2 linked regions of the Homo sapiens genome follow. The protein of the gene in region 2 interacts with the protein of the main gene of each other region in a biochemical or structural test. Each region holds a gene or a part of one and is shown on either strand. Other genes may lie near its edges.

Evidence for each region. The genes of interacting proteins can lie anywhere in the genome.
Region 1: the proteins of EYA2 (region 2) and SIX1 form a complex in vitro, tested with the Homo sapiens proteins (2 studies listed by IntAct, with this or other methods).

The regions. Positions count from the first base shown.
Region 1 is NC_000014.9:60,646,149-60,654,765, forward strand, and holds the start of SIX1 (homeobox protein SIX1), read right to left. Parts: upstream 3,330-8,617; 5' UTR 3,042-3,329; coding exon 2,482-3,041; intron 430-2,481; coding exon 135-429; 3' UTR 1-134. UniProt on the Homo sapiens protein: Transcription factor that is involved in the regulation of cell proliferation, apoptosis and embryonic development. Plays an important role in the development of several organs, including kidney, muscle and inner ear.
Region 2 is NC_000020.11:47,183,995-47,189,724, reverse strand, and holds the end of EYA2 (protein phosphatase EYA2), read right to left. Parts: intron 1,673-5,730; coding exon 1,592-1,672; 3' UTR 881-1,591; downstream 1-880. UniProt on the Homo sapiens protein: Functions both as protein phosphatase and as transcriptional coactivator for SIX1, and probably also for SIX2, SIX4 and SIX5.

The DNA.
Region 1 (8,617 bases), on a different chromosome or scaffold from region 2:
CCACCATTCCTTTATGCGCAAACAACTCCAGAAACAAGCTGCAAAAATGTTCCTGATTTCTATTTACAAGTGTCCCTAGTCGCTGCAGTGGTTGCTGCTCCAGGAATCCCTTCGAGGCCCCAGTCCCTCCCCACTTAGGACCCCAAGTCCACCAGACTGGAGGTGAGGGGGCCGAGCAGAGAGTCTTGGAGCTGATGCTGGTGGGTCTGCAGGCCGTGACTGGGCTGCGAGGCTGTTAAGCCCGGGAGAGAATAGTTTGAGCTCCTGGCGTGGCCCATATTGCCCTGCAGCAGAAGGACCGAGTTCTGGTCTGGACTTTGGGGAGGTGAGAATTCCTCTTCTGAGCTGGACATGAGCGGCTTGCCCCCTTCCAGAGGAGAGAGTTGGTTCTGCTTGTTGGAGGAGGAGTTATTGTTTTCGGTGTTCTCCCTAAGAAATAGAGGACAACACCATATGGTTAAAAAAAAAAAAAAAAAAAAAAAGTAGGTTAAAAAAAAAGTGTGAGATGGAGGGAGGGGAGCTGGAAGGAGGAAAGGGCCATTGTGCAATCTGTCACCAACCCAAATGGAGGAGCTCTACCCTTCCACCCATCCCCAAGGGTAATGGGGGAGGTGAGGAGTCAGAGGAACCTGGAGAAATGGAGAGCTACGGACAGAGCCTCCTGTTAGGAGCCAGGTCCTTTTCTCTTCCAGATTTCAGAAAGTGATAGATTAGCAGGATTTATTTGAAACATACAAAATATATGTTTTAAATTTTGTTCAAGCAGTTACATTTAAATACATATAAACTAGCAACATATTTAAATGTAACTGAAAATCTTTCAATAAATAGATATTGGTGATAAAGAAATGATAGAGGACAGAGTCCAATGCACAAATGTTTGGGGTGAATCAAGTCCATTGCCTTGTTCGCATATGAGGAGACAATTAAACATCCCGTTTTCCTGCCCCAGCCCAGAGTTGGTGGTTTTGCAGACACAGAACAGGTCATGGGAAGTGGTGCCCAGCGCGGCCCAGTGACCTGAGTAAACACAGGGAGCGCAGCCAGTCTCTGATTTCATCTGGAGTCGGCCCTCGGGCCTGGCTTATAGGACGGCCGTTTTGTAACTAAAGGCTAACTGCAACCATACAATCCCTGTTCCTGTGTTACTTGCTAACTCTTCAGCCCCTCGTGTCCCCCTCTCAAACTTCCTACCAACACCCACCCCAACCCATCCTTTCTGGGCAGGGGAAACTTCGCCGCCCCGCACAGGCTGCCAGCGGGCGCGGCGCGCTGGGGCGTCAGTCCGGGCACTCGGTACCGGTTAACTTCAGGATTTCGCTTCCCTCGCCGCTTCCGCCTTCCGAGTGCTCGTCAGTCCTCCCGACTCCTAGCGCCTGTCTGTCTCCTTTCTTTCCCCTTATCCTCACAGTCTCTGTCTCCCGACAAGCCCATTTCAGCAGAATTTATCCTGGCTCTGGTTTTCCACCAAGACAAGAAAGGGAGCAAGATCTTCGGCCCCTAGTCTTGGAAGCGAACAAAGGAAAACCTAACCGGCCCCTGCGCTCAGGTTTTCCCCCAAACTCTTTGGCTTCGCGGAGCGCTCTCCCCGCCACAGCCACCTCCCCACCGTCCTTCTGAATCTCTGTCCGAAACGCTATAGAGAACAGAAGGAGCCTGCCCAGGTGGCCGAAGGTGTTGCCCCGAGGTGGGGGAAAGTAGAGACCAATTTTTAAAATATTGCCTTGTGAGCTCCAGTGCGAGAGAGGGCTGCGACTGGAGACCCTTTCCTCGTCTGGGCATGCGGCGCGGTCAGCCAGACCGACGGGCTGCAGTGCCGGGCCACGCGCGAGCGAGCACGGCGAGGATCAACCCTTTCTTAATTTGGGGCGCCGGGGAGTAAATGCAGCGCCAACTCTCCCCAAAGCTCTCTTTTTGTTGTATCTTTAAAAGTCTCCTCCATTTGTCCAGCTAGTGAGAAATGAAGCAGGCTACCTCTAAACCAAAAGACTATCAAGAGAGAGCTGTGGAGAACCAGGCGGGAGTGGGGGCAGAGCCAATGTCTCAGGCCAGCTTCACCCCTCTGGGGAGCAAGAGGAGAGAGGTTCGCGAACCTCAGCTCCCACCAAACCCCTTTCCTTGCGACACCAATCAACATTTCACTGCCCGTTGATTTAGAAACTCACTCTCCACCCACCACTCATAGCCGCGGCCAGCCAGGGAGGCATAAAGACCAAATCTAGCGCCAATATTTCCCGACACTCACATCCCAGAGAAACCCACGCGCGGGTGCTCAAAGCAAATGAGGCCCCATCCTTAGCAAGGAACCTCAGAGTTCATGAACTTTCGCTGCAGCGCCGCGGAGGGCCTGCGCGCCGCCCCGTGGACGGGCTCCGGCCGGCGGGGAGGACTTGGTGGCTGGTGCCTGCGGGGGCGGGAGGGGGCGGAGGAGAAAGGACGGCTTCCTAGGGTCGCCCGAGTCGCGGGAAGCACGCCGCGTACCTTTCCTTGGCCTCCGCGGCCCGGTCTCTTTGCCTCCGGTTCTTAAACCAGTTGCTGACCTGGGTGGTGGTGAGGCCGGTGGCCTCGGCCAGCTCCCGCTTCTCACGCGGCGATGGGTAGGGATTGTGCGCGTACCACTCCCGCAGGACACCCCTCGACTTCTCCTTGAAGCAGTAGCTGGTCTCCTCGCCGTCCCAGATGGTGCGCGGCAGTGGAAATTTTCGGCGCACCCGATATTTGCCCACGGCGCCCAGGGGTCGGCCGCGCAGCTTCTCGGCCTCCACGTAATGCGCCTTCAGCCACAGTTGCTGCAGTTTGGGGTGGTTGTGAGGCGAGAACTGGTGGCTCTCCAGGATCTTGTAGAGCTCACGGAAGTTGCCGCGGTGGAAGGCGACCACCGCCTTGGCCTTGAGTACGCTCTCGTTCTTGTGCAGGTGGTCGCAGGCGGGCAGTGACCACAGGAACCTGCCCAGGCGCTCCAGGTTTCCGCCTTGCTGCAGAACCTCGCACACGCACGCCACTTGCTCCTGCGTAAAGCCAAACGACGGCAGCATCGACATGGCTGGGGCCTGCCGGGGCGCACGGCCCAGGCGCACGCGGCAGGGAGCAGAGCCGAGAGGCAGGGGGCGGCGGCCGCAGGGAGGGGGGCGCGGCTGTTCCTAACCTCCTCCTTAGGCTTTGCAAAGGCGAAAACCGGAGTCGGAACTTGGCGGTGGGCGGCCAAGGAAGAGAAGGCGGAGGAGTAGGGGAGGTTCTGGACACGGAACGGCCGGCGCACTCAGTAGCCTTTAAGGCCTTGCTGCCTCCGACCTCCCGCCCGGTGGATGCTGCTAGTTGCCGGGGAACTTGGTTTCTGTTCTCCCCGCAGCGGCCTTAAAGCGCGCAGCGTCCCCGGCACGCTGATTGGCTGCCGGCGGCGCCTATCCGGGGCTGGCCAGCCAGCGCGCCGCCCGGCTGGGCAGAGAGGCCGCACCGCCCAGAGCGGGGAGGGCGAGGCTGCGGAGCTGGGGGTTGGGGGTGTTGCCGGGGCTGCGCGGGTAGGGAGTGGTGGGAGGAGAAGGAAGAGGAAAGGTGGGAAGCCAGTTGGGGTCTGAGGGAGCTGCGCTGCGGAGGTGTGGGGAGGTAGGGAGTGGGTGAGCGCGTCAGGACCCTGCAACGCGGGACCCGTCGCCAGTATCACCTAAGGGGAGTCGCGCACAACTCCGCACAAATCAATGACTCCAAACCTTAATTCCTCCCCTCTCCCTCCGTACTCTTGTCCTCATCCCTTGCAGACTTGCCCTCTCCCGGTGAGCTCATATTTAATTACTTTAATGTTGGAATGAATAAATAATGGATTGATGAATAGCTTATGGAACGCGATAAATAATTCAAGAGCAGACCAGGGTCCGCGCATGCAGCCTCTGGAAGAGTGGCTTCGGGTTGGCTTCAGCTCGAGGAGTCCAACCCTATTTCCTCCTCCCTCCCCCCACCAACTACCACTGTCCTCCCCCCACTGCTGCACACCACCCTCCAAAGGGCACAAGTACTCCCAGTCGGACAGCGTTTCCCTCGTTCACAAAAGACCTCCATGATTTGAGACCAGGCAGAGAGCTGTTTAGAGCATACTTGCTGAGCACCTAGAGACTCCGAGCGTTCATTTGTGATTTGGTATCTTAATGTTCTGCGATTGAAACCAGCAGGTTCCTGAAGCTTCTGGACTCAATTTCCCCATCTGTGCGGTTGTGTTTTGCAGTGCCACCTCTGCTACTGAGGAATGCCGAGAGGCTTTACTTGCTATTAGCAAAAATGCTTTGGGAACCTCGTACGAAAGGCGCTGGATGTGGTGTAAATTAAATAAAACTGTGCCCGGCTCCAATAACCGTCCGGTTGTAATATAATCCTTACCCTGCTCTGAGAGGGACACTGCCCTCAAAGCGAGAACGACAGCGGCTCCAAGAAGATTAAATAAAGAGGTGTGTGTGTGTGTGTGTGTGTGTGTATGTGTGTGTGTGTGTGTGTTGCAATGCTGGCCTATTTTGCTGCCAGGGAATGAGAGATGCACTGCAATTTAAGTCCCATCATCTGCTGTTTTGTTTATGTGTGGAGAATGCTTAGTAAAACTGCACAAACAAGTGAAGTTGTAATTATCTTAAGCCTCATTTGCACACCTAGTTCCAAAGCAATAATTAAAAGGATTTTGAAAACAATTAGCCTCTCTAAACAAAGATAATCTATTGTCAGTAGCTGAGACTAGCAGGAGATAAGAACAATGCGTGGAGATAAGGGAAGCCAAATGGTGGAAGGAGAGTGACTTTATGACTATACTTATCTCTGATTAGATAAGTTCAAAACAGAATTCTAAGTACACTTCAAAAATGCTTTTGATTTCAATGTGCCCTCTTAGTGAGTGGTGAAGAACAAACTGTAGGCTCCTTAAACTGGCTTGTCTTCTTCAAATATGTTTTGATTCCTTTAGCCAAAGAGCCCAGCACTACAGAACCTTTTGCATATTGAGATGCAAGTGGGAGAAGGAGAAGCATGTCTTGGTTTCCTCTTTTATTATTAATATGGTTTTAAAATGATGCACCCAGTACAGTGCACCCTGCAACATACATTCTAAACTCATAAAGGGTTCCCACCTCAGGGCTGCCACATGGGAGATTCCAAGTAGACAGGAAGCTGCTTCTCTGCTGAACATAATGTTTTCTGCATCCTTGAAACTCTTGCTTATTCCATGCAATTAGATCTTGGAAGCAGATGCTGATATTTCATTACCTTAGGCTTTTTTTTTAAAAAAATGCATTTAATAGGTGTGCATGCTTTCAAAAGAGCCTCTGCCATATAGTATGCCCAATGACTTTCTAAACTGGAAGCCTGGCACTGCTAAACCCAGAGCCATGTCTGGTAATTTCCCCTCACTGTCTTATTTTAGTGCTTATGATGTTTCACATGAAGTCTTAAGGAGCTGCAGTGCCCTCCCAGAAGGAATGCCTCTGCTTGAAACAGTCCTTATTGACATGGCAGCTGTGTGAGGACCGGAACGGAGGCTTAAACCCGGCTCTAAAAATCAGTTAATACCCTAAAGTCTGGAGCAAGTGCGCACAATTACAATGGGGGGAGGGTCTTTAAGCACAACCACGTCTCTTAAAAGACAAACAGTATGTTGAGTATGGGGTGTGCTTTGTAATTAACAATTTTGTATAAGGAAATGAGGCATAGCCTGCACAAATAAGGGCAGGTATAAATTTACAGAGGATGACAGCAGAGATGGCAATTAGACACAAATAGGACCACCTTTTTTTCCCGGCTTCCTCCAGACCTACCTGCCCATTTCTTTTTATCTGTCTTCAAAAGGAACCAGGACGTACTACATTGCCGTCATCTGGGAAGACGACGTGTAGAAGGTGTGATTGCGGGAACCCGGGCAGAAAAGAGGTGCTCTTCCTCGGAGGCCGTGACTGGGCCGGCCAACATTTTTCCTCCCGCTTAATCCAATAGATCGCGTAACTGGAAAGGGAAAGTGCTATGCGCTTTATACCAAGGAGTCTACCTGCTATTTCGATCCCTCGGTTAGGGGAACCAATTGTTATAAATGTTAATTATTGGCTCGGATATATAAGGTTTCCCAAAATGGAACCTTTCACTGAAAACCGCTGAAAGAGGTAAAATGACATGAATTTACAAACCACCTAAACTAAATGATCCATTTTAAATCGCACACAGAAAGGTTTGAGTTGTTCTCGTAACATAAAACCTTTGCTGTCAATGCAAATCGCACGAAAAGCAGAGATGCGTTGGAGATTTAAAGGAAATGAGCAACTCTAGCCAGCCGGCTGCTGCCCTCGCTGCAGCGCGGCTCGGGAGGGAACACCGCTGGCAAGGAGCGCCCGATGCCAGGTTTCGGCTCTCCAGTGCCTCCTCTGTGCAGGTAACGGCCGCGTGCGCTTTAGTCGATGAAAAAGCATTCAGTGGGACAGCATTAGCTGTTGCTAGGGTTTCTCGGCTGGGTTGACAGGCCTTGATGCAAACACCCCTAGCTGGGACCCACTTGTTTCCCTTCTGGCTTGTAGCAAGATAGTTAGGGGCTCCCGGGCCGCTTTCTTGGAATTCTTTCACCATCCAGAACGACGGTGAGGATTCTACTCTACCTACAAATATTTGGAAAGGGAGGGCATAGAGAGGTGTTTCTTCAATAAATTCGTGTCATCGCTCTGGGGCAGTGCGGAGACTCCCCAAATCCGGCTGAAGTGCCAAAATTCTTTTTCCTCTGCTTAGTCGGAAACTCCGGGTGCCCTCGACCCTTGGGAACTCCGGCTCCGATGGCCGGCGTGGCGCCGGAGCAGCAGCCCACCTGCTCCTGGGGGACGCCGCTCCCCGCGAGGTCTGAATAGGCCTGGGGCTCAGGCAGAGAGATTTGCGGACTCAGAGAAGAGAAACCCAAAACCAGTCCATTAGTAAATGAGTTTTGTGTTGTCAAGGTTCTTTCCCATCCACTTGCTGTTCTGAAAAATAGATCACGTTTCGTTATCTTTAGTGGGAATCTGCAACGTGACACCGGATCCGCGCGGCCCCCGCCTCCCTCCCTGCCTCGCTCTGCCTGGCTGAGGGGAGCAGGCGGGCCTCCTCAGCTTATTTCTGAACAATGAAGATTTGTCTCTTCCCCAAGTGTATTTATGTATGTATGGAGGGAGGAAGTTTTCTCCTGGAAGCGGGAAGCTCGAGAGCAGAGCCTCCTACTTCTTTGGTGCGAAAACGCTGCGCTGGCCCAAGATTCAGGGCGACTGACGCCCCCCACCACCTCCACCGCCCACACCTGGACAAACAGAGCCAGCTGTGAGCCTGGCTCGCCGCTGAAAACCCTGCCGCCCCGCGCGGCTCCCGAAAATACCATCTCCGTATTGTCTCGAGGTCAGGGAAGGGAGAAAGAGAGAAACACACACAGACTGATGGACCGACTGAGGGTCAAGCACTGGGAGGGAGCTCAGACTGGAGGGGAACAGAGCTGGGGTGTGTGTCTTTGGAAGAGTTATTCTCTCTCTCCCTCTACGTGTGTCCCCGTGGCAGGTCTTTCCCAGAGTGTGTCTCTAACTCTTTTCTCCATCTGAAAGAGGACGCTCGTTCATTCTGTCTGTATGTGAACCTGTTTCTCATTCTCTCTCCTTATCTCTCTCTCTTCTTTCTCATTGTTTTTCCTCTTCCTCTTCTCATCCTCCTCTTTCTTCCTCCTTCCCTCCCTCTCCCTTCCCCTCGGCTCTGGGCGCTCGTTTTTTTCTCTCCGGGACTGGGCGCTGTGAGGTTTCACAGAGTGTGCTTATGTCACCCACTGAGGCAGCGCAGGTAAGTTCTCTTGAAAGTAGACCCTCAAGTCTGGGCGGTGTAGTAGGCCTTACTTGGCGAGAACCTTTCACAGGGAGTGGAGGGCGGGCAATAGATGGTGTAGCCTGCACGGAGGGCGGGCAAAGGTGTATTGGCCACCTAGGGGAGAAAAGGGTTAACAAATTGCCCTCTGAGAAAGCTCTGACCAATCGCCAGGTTTGAGCTAGAAGACCCTACTCAACATCAGATGCCAACTACCTCTCTGGAAAGTGGAGCCAAGGTGTCACAAGAAACAATTCTTAAGAATTAAAGGGACTCTGCGCCCCACCCCCCATTCCCTGTTTTTTAAAATGTCTCCTTAGGGCAGGTTTATGAAATGAAACTCTCCAAAACCGCTATCTTCCATTGAATTTCCAATCAACTTTTTTTTCTCAACTTATGTACATCCTGAATACCACATCTGTCTAAGCTAAAAAGAATTTCCTTTTGGGAGGTGAAAGCCTGCAGCTCCTCCTGTTCAGAGGAAAGTGCTAGTGACGGTAATGCAGGGTGACACTAAATAAACAGTTAGGGTGGACTGGAAAGATGGAGTTAATTATCCAGTGAGCTGCATTTCAGCCCAGACCATCAGGGGCTGATTTGTTTTGGCTCATATTTGGAGGAAGGAGACAAACCACTCTTCTCCACATCTCCTTGGGATCCTGATCATTCATGTCTTCAACAAAACAAAAAACAAAAACCACTACCCAGGTATCACTGCTTCACTTAAATTTTGGTTTATTACTCCTCTGCAGGCTCTGAAAAAATGTCCACTCCATTGCCCCATATCCCTGGAGGG
Region 2 (5,730 bases):
CCATGCCTGGCCGGTGACAGTTTTCTAATCATCAGAGATTCTAGCTCTGAGACTCCAGTGGCAGAGATCTCCATCTCCCATGACATGGGTCAGCTGACTGATAATCCACGATTTTACCAGCATTAATAAGGAAGGAGCCTATATTCCTGCTTAGCATCCAATCAGATAGACCCAGGTCCTGCCTGGTCCACTATGGGTAGTGGCAGTGCTCCAGATGTCTTCAGAACTTCTCCAGATTTCCCTCCTTGCCCCTTAAACTGGATCCTTCACTCATGTCCCATCCACTGGGAAATGAAGTCCTACCATTAGAACGGAAGTCAGTTGCATTTTCCAGCCCGACCCTCAATTCCCCCAATTCTTTGAATAACAGCTCACTGATTTTCTTTCCCTTGGAGGATCAGCTTGTTCAACTTGCTGTTCGTGACAGGATCCAACCCTAAATCCAGCTCCGTGAGTTGCCTAAGCCTCAGATTTGGCCAACGAGTTACAGTCCTGAGGCTTTCGCTGCACCACGGTGAAGAATGTGGTCTCTTTCTGTCTGTGTGGTTTTGCTGAAGGACTCGTAGAGCCGTCTTTGCCACACAGGGAACAGCCTGCCTGAGAATTACGGCCACATGAGAGAAATTCATTTGACCACCCGGATCCAGACAGATACCACCTAAAGTTCCTGGAGACACTTGTCCCTTTGTCCTTCTTCCCCTCCCTTTCTGCCTCCCTCCTTTTCTCCCTCTTCTCCTTCCTCCCTCCCCCCACCCCATTTTTCTTGGCTTAAGCCAGTGTGAGTTGGATTCTATTCTTCTGCAACTGATAAAGTCTTTAAAAAGGACAACACATTTGGAAGCCTCAAGAGTGGTAATAAAGTAACCACATCCTACCCCACTTCAAAATGTAAACGTGGTTTTATTTAATGCCTTTTATCCATCACAAAGCACCCATTCCTTCCCAGCATCCCCCTCTTCCTAGAAAACAAGATGTAGCGTAAGGCACGTGCACTGTCCACATGACGTCAAGTAGGTCTTTAAAAACAAAAATAAGCAATAGTCTTTTCAACAGCTTGAACTGCCTTCCTCTCTAATGTTCAAAGAATGATTGTCCCCACAAAGCACAACTTGGAGAATAGAGTGCTTACATTAGAACTGTGAACCACCCCACATACCAGTTCAAAAAACCAAACCAAACCAACGACTAAGAAACCCAGCCACACAGGTACAAGAGCATAATTCCGGAGTAATGAGACTAGTCCATAAATTAAAAAGAAGACAAGACAAACCCATCCCCTCCTCATCACCAGGCACCCCCCAAATCAGCAATTCCTTGCTTTTGTTCTGTGAGTCTTACAGAAGAGTCTAGACTCCGAGCCAGCCCTTTTCCCCAAAGTCAAATACTCCGAAGCCAATGTTGGGTACTTTCCTTCTCAGAACCCCCATTTGGACTGATGGACGGCTTCTGAGATGGTCACTGGACACGTCGTCTCGGCTGTGGGGCCCCTTCCTGGTGTCCAACATCTGGGTCTCTGGAGTTCTCGGTGGGGAGGTGGGGAAGGCGAGGGGGTCTGAGGGTGAGATGGCAGGTGGAGATGCTGCTGATCCTGCTATAAATACTCCAGCTCCAGGGCGTGCCTCAGTGCCTCCAGGTCTGCGTGGCAGGATATCCGCCAGAAAGGCATGTTGTGCTGAAACACAGAACACCAGCCACAAGGTTATGGCCCCGCCCCTGCCCCCGGGTTCCACGCCTGTGGTTAGAGGGCATGTGAGAAGTCAACCCAGTTAAGTCTAGCACGTGGGGACTTCCCAAACTATGGGGCACTTGATGTTGCTGGCAGACCCACATCTGGCCAGTACCCACCAGTATGGCCAACCATTTCTATTCAGAGCCTGCTCTGACGGGCTTATCCAGCACTGCCCAGCGTGTTCGCTGTTTGACCCTCTCGCCTCTGTTGGTACCAGCGTGGTCTTAGGCGGTGCACTGACATGGTGTTAAATTGCACAATGGGAAAGCGATTCCTTTTTAAAAATTTGTTCTTGCCTGGGCACTGTGGCCCACGTTTGTAATCCCAGCACTTTGGGAGGCTGAGGCGGGAGGATTGCTTGAGGCCGGGAATTGGAGGCTGCAGTGCTCTGAATCCTGTTACTTCAAGAAGAAAGTCACAGCTCGGTGCTGGAACCCCTCCCCAGCATTGACAGTCTCCACTGTGAACAAACAGAGCTGGTCTTGGAGAGTCTTCAGCAGGCCACTGTAGCTAGCCAGGTCAGATGACACTAATCTGTTTTCTTTATAGCTTTCGTTTTTATCTTTTCCTTTTCTTTGCAGCAGGTGGTACCTGCTTCAAGTTATTGTCATGATGTGGAGTTTTTTTTTTCTTTCTTTCTTTCTTTTGAGACAGGCTAGAGTGCAGTGACATGATCTCTGCTCACTGCAGCCTCAACCTCCCAGGCTCAAGCGATCCTCCTACCTTAGCCTCCCGGGTAGCTGGGACAACAGATGCATGCCACCACATCTGGCTAATTTTTGTATTTTTTGTAGAGATAGGGTTTCACCATGGTGACCAGGCTGGTCTCAAACTACTGGGCTCAAGCGATCCACCCACCTCAGCCTCCCAAAGTGTTGGGATTACAGGCATGAGCCATTGTGCCCAGCTGAATTTCGTTTCATTAATTTTTTTTTTTAATTTTAGAGATGGAGTCTCAGTTTGTTGTCCATGCTGGAATGCAGATCATGGCTCACTGCAGCCTTGATCTCTTGGGCTCAACTGATTTTCCTGACTCAGCCTCCTGAGTAGCTAGGGACATATCTAGGTAAATAGGAAAAAGGAAGGATGCAGGACAAATTGTATATATATGTGCATGTATATGGAAGAAAGAATGCTGGCGTTTCTCAGTAGTTTAAAAGATAATAAATAAGACTACCTTAGGAAGAATGTAAAGAAATCATTAAGGCAGGTGTAAATAAAATGTCATGGGAGCCAGCCAGAGGAAGCAGCCTCTTTTTTGGTAGAAGTGAATGGGATGGGGGTGTCTCAGGGGACAAGAAGCGCATGAGACCCAGACCTTGAAGAACGAATGAGGAGGCCGGGCGTGGTGGCTCACGCCTGTAATCCTAGGACTTTGGGAGGCCAAGGCGGGTGGACTACCTGAAATCAGGAATTTGAGACCAGCCTGGCCAACATGGTGAAACCCCATCTCTACTAAAATACAAGAATCAGCTGGGCGTGGTGGTGGCCACCTGTAATCCCAGCTACTTGGGAGGCTGGGGCAGGAGAATCACTTGAACACAGGAGGCAGAGGATGCAGTGAGTTGAGATCATGCCACTGCACTCCAACCTGGGCAACAAGAGTGAAACTTCATCTCAAAAAAAAAAAAAAAAAAAAAAAAAAAAGAATAAGTGCTTCATAGTTAGCAGGTCACTGAAGGGAAGGGCATCCCAGATTGAGAATCCCTCAGTGAGCAAAGGAAGATCTATAAAGATGCCAGGGGCAGACCCCAGTGGGGCCTTCTGTACAGGTCACAAACACTTATGGGGCTTTCATTGGAGGCTCAGATAAACCCACAGATAAGAAATAAACAAGATAAGTTCATCTCCTGGTAAGTGCTAGGAAGGAAACAGAATGAGATAGGGTAGAAAGCAGCTTTGTGTGTCTACTTTTGAGAGCTGGGTCAGGAAAGGCCTCTCCAGGGAGTGTCATTTAAGCAGGCCCTGGCAAAGATGTGGGGGAACGTGGGGGCAGGTAGAAGACACAGCAAGTGCAAAGGCCCCAGGAAGGTTGAGCTTGGAATGCAATGCTCATTGCTGCACCGCATGGCTCTTGACACATAGTAGGTGCTCAAGAAATATTCGTAGAAGGAATGAAAAGAGGAAGAGAGAGAGGGAAAAAAAGAAGGTAAGTTTCTCAAGCAAAGTCCTCTGAATGTATCCTTTTCTCTTTGTTCTGTAGTTTCTAAACAATTCTCAGCTCAAGGGAAGCAGAAAACCATCTCCTATGGGAACAGCTCTCATCTCTTCAACGCCTTCTCACTGCCCTAGCATTCCCACCCTGCCCTCATCCCGGCCAAGCCCTCCTTTCTTTGCAAAGATAGATTCTGGTTGCCACCTGGCCAATCCTGCCCTCTTTAAAGAGTGTAATTTGGCTGAGTGTGGTGGCTCACACCTCTAATCCCAGTACTTTGGGAGGCTGAGGTGGTCGGATCACCTGAGGTCAGGAGTTCGAGACCAGCCTGGCCAACATGGCAAAACCCCGTCTCTATTAAAATTACAAAAAATTAGCCACATGTGGTGGCTCATGCCTGTAATCCCAGCTACTCAGGAGGCTGAGGCACAAGAATCGCTTGAACCTGGGAGGTGGAGGTTGCAGTGAGCCGAGATCATGCTACTGCACTCCAGCCTGGGCGACACAGTGAGATTCTGTCTCAAAAAAAAAAAAAAAAAAAAAAAAAAAAAAAAAAAAAAAAAAGAGTGTGATTCATTTTTCTGGGAGAGAATGAGCAAAGGTGGAAGAAAGAGAATGTTCTAGCCGCCTTTACCCCAGGCTTAAAGGTTCCAGAGTGCCAGTGGATTCATCACTCGTGAAGAGGTGGAGACAAATCACCCACTAAAATGGAGATATTAACAACACTGTCAGCGGAAACAGTCAAGGCCCCTGGTCCTGCGGCCATATTTTACACCGCTCAGATTTCCGGTGGCCTGGGCTAATGACTTCCATTTGTCAGGCTGAGAGAGCTGCTGGTGGACACTGTTTCTCACTAACGTTCTGAGGCTTCTGCCTCAGACACTGGGACTTTTATGGGAGTTCTGTGTGTGGTGGGTGTGTACCTAGTCTTCTTTGGCTGACTCTACTCTTGCCTGACTAGCTCAGGGGTGAAAACCAACCGTGTTTGAAACTCGTAAGTCCGTCTCCTCCCTGCCAGGCGTTTGGAGCATGACACAGGTAGGTTTGCATGTGCTAGATGTGTGACCCTAGGCAAATTAATTAACCTTTCTGAGTCTCAAATTCTGTCATCTATAAAATGGGGTGTGGCCGGGCACATGCCTCTAATCCCAGCTTTCTGGGAGGCCAAGGTGGGCAGATTGTTTGAGTTTACGAGTTTGAGGCCAGCCCAGGCAACATGGCAAAACCCCATCTCTATAAAAAAAAAAATACAAAAAATTAACCAGGTATGGTGGTGCCTGTCCATAGCTCCAGCTACTTAGAGGTGGAAGTGGGAAGATCGCTTGAGTCCAGTAGGTAGAGGCTGCAGTAAGCTGAGATTGTGCCACTGCACTCCAGCCTAGGTGCCAGAGTGAGACCCTATCTCTAAAAAAAAAAAAAAAAAAAAAGGGATGCAATGATACCCACTTTGTAGGAGTTTTTGGAGGATTGAGTACAATGATGATGTTAGCAATAAAGTTACGGTGGTGAAGGGCATGGGGTTAGGTCAGCAACTCAAGATGCCAGCCACAGCCTGGCCACACACCAGTGCGACTGACCCTGGCAGCTGCCCCTCAATATCACTTCTCCCCTTCTCTCTCAGAAGCAGCTCCCATTTCTTAGCGGGGCTCATGGCGGCGGATAATAGAGACTACATCTCCCAGGAAAGGGGAGGAGCCTTCCAGGTGGAGGGAACAGTGCCTGCAAAGCCTTCCAAGCTCCTCTCTCCCGGGGCCCTCTCCCAGGACCCTAGGGCTTCCCTCTTCTTCTGGGTTTCATCTGCTGAGACCCTGAACATTTTTGCATTTCCTTGGGATTTGCTGCCAGG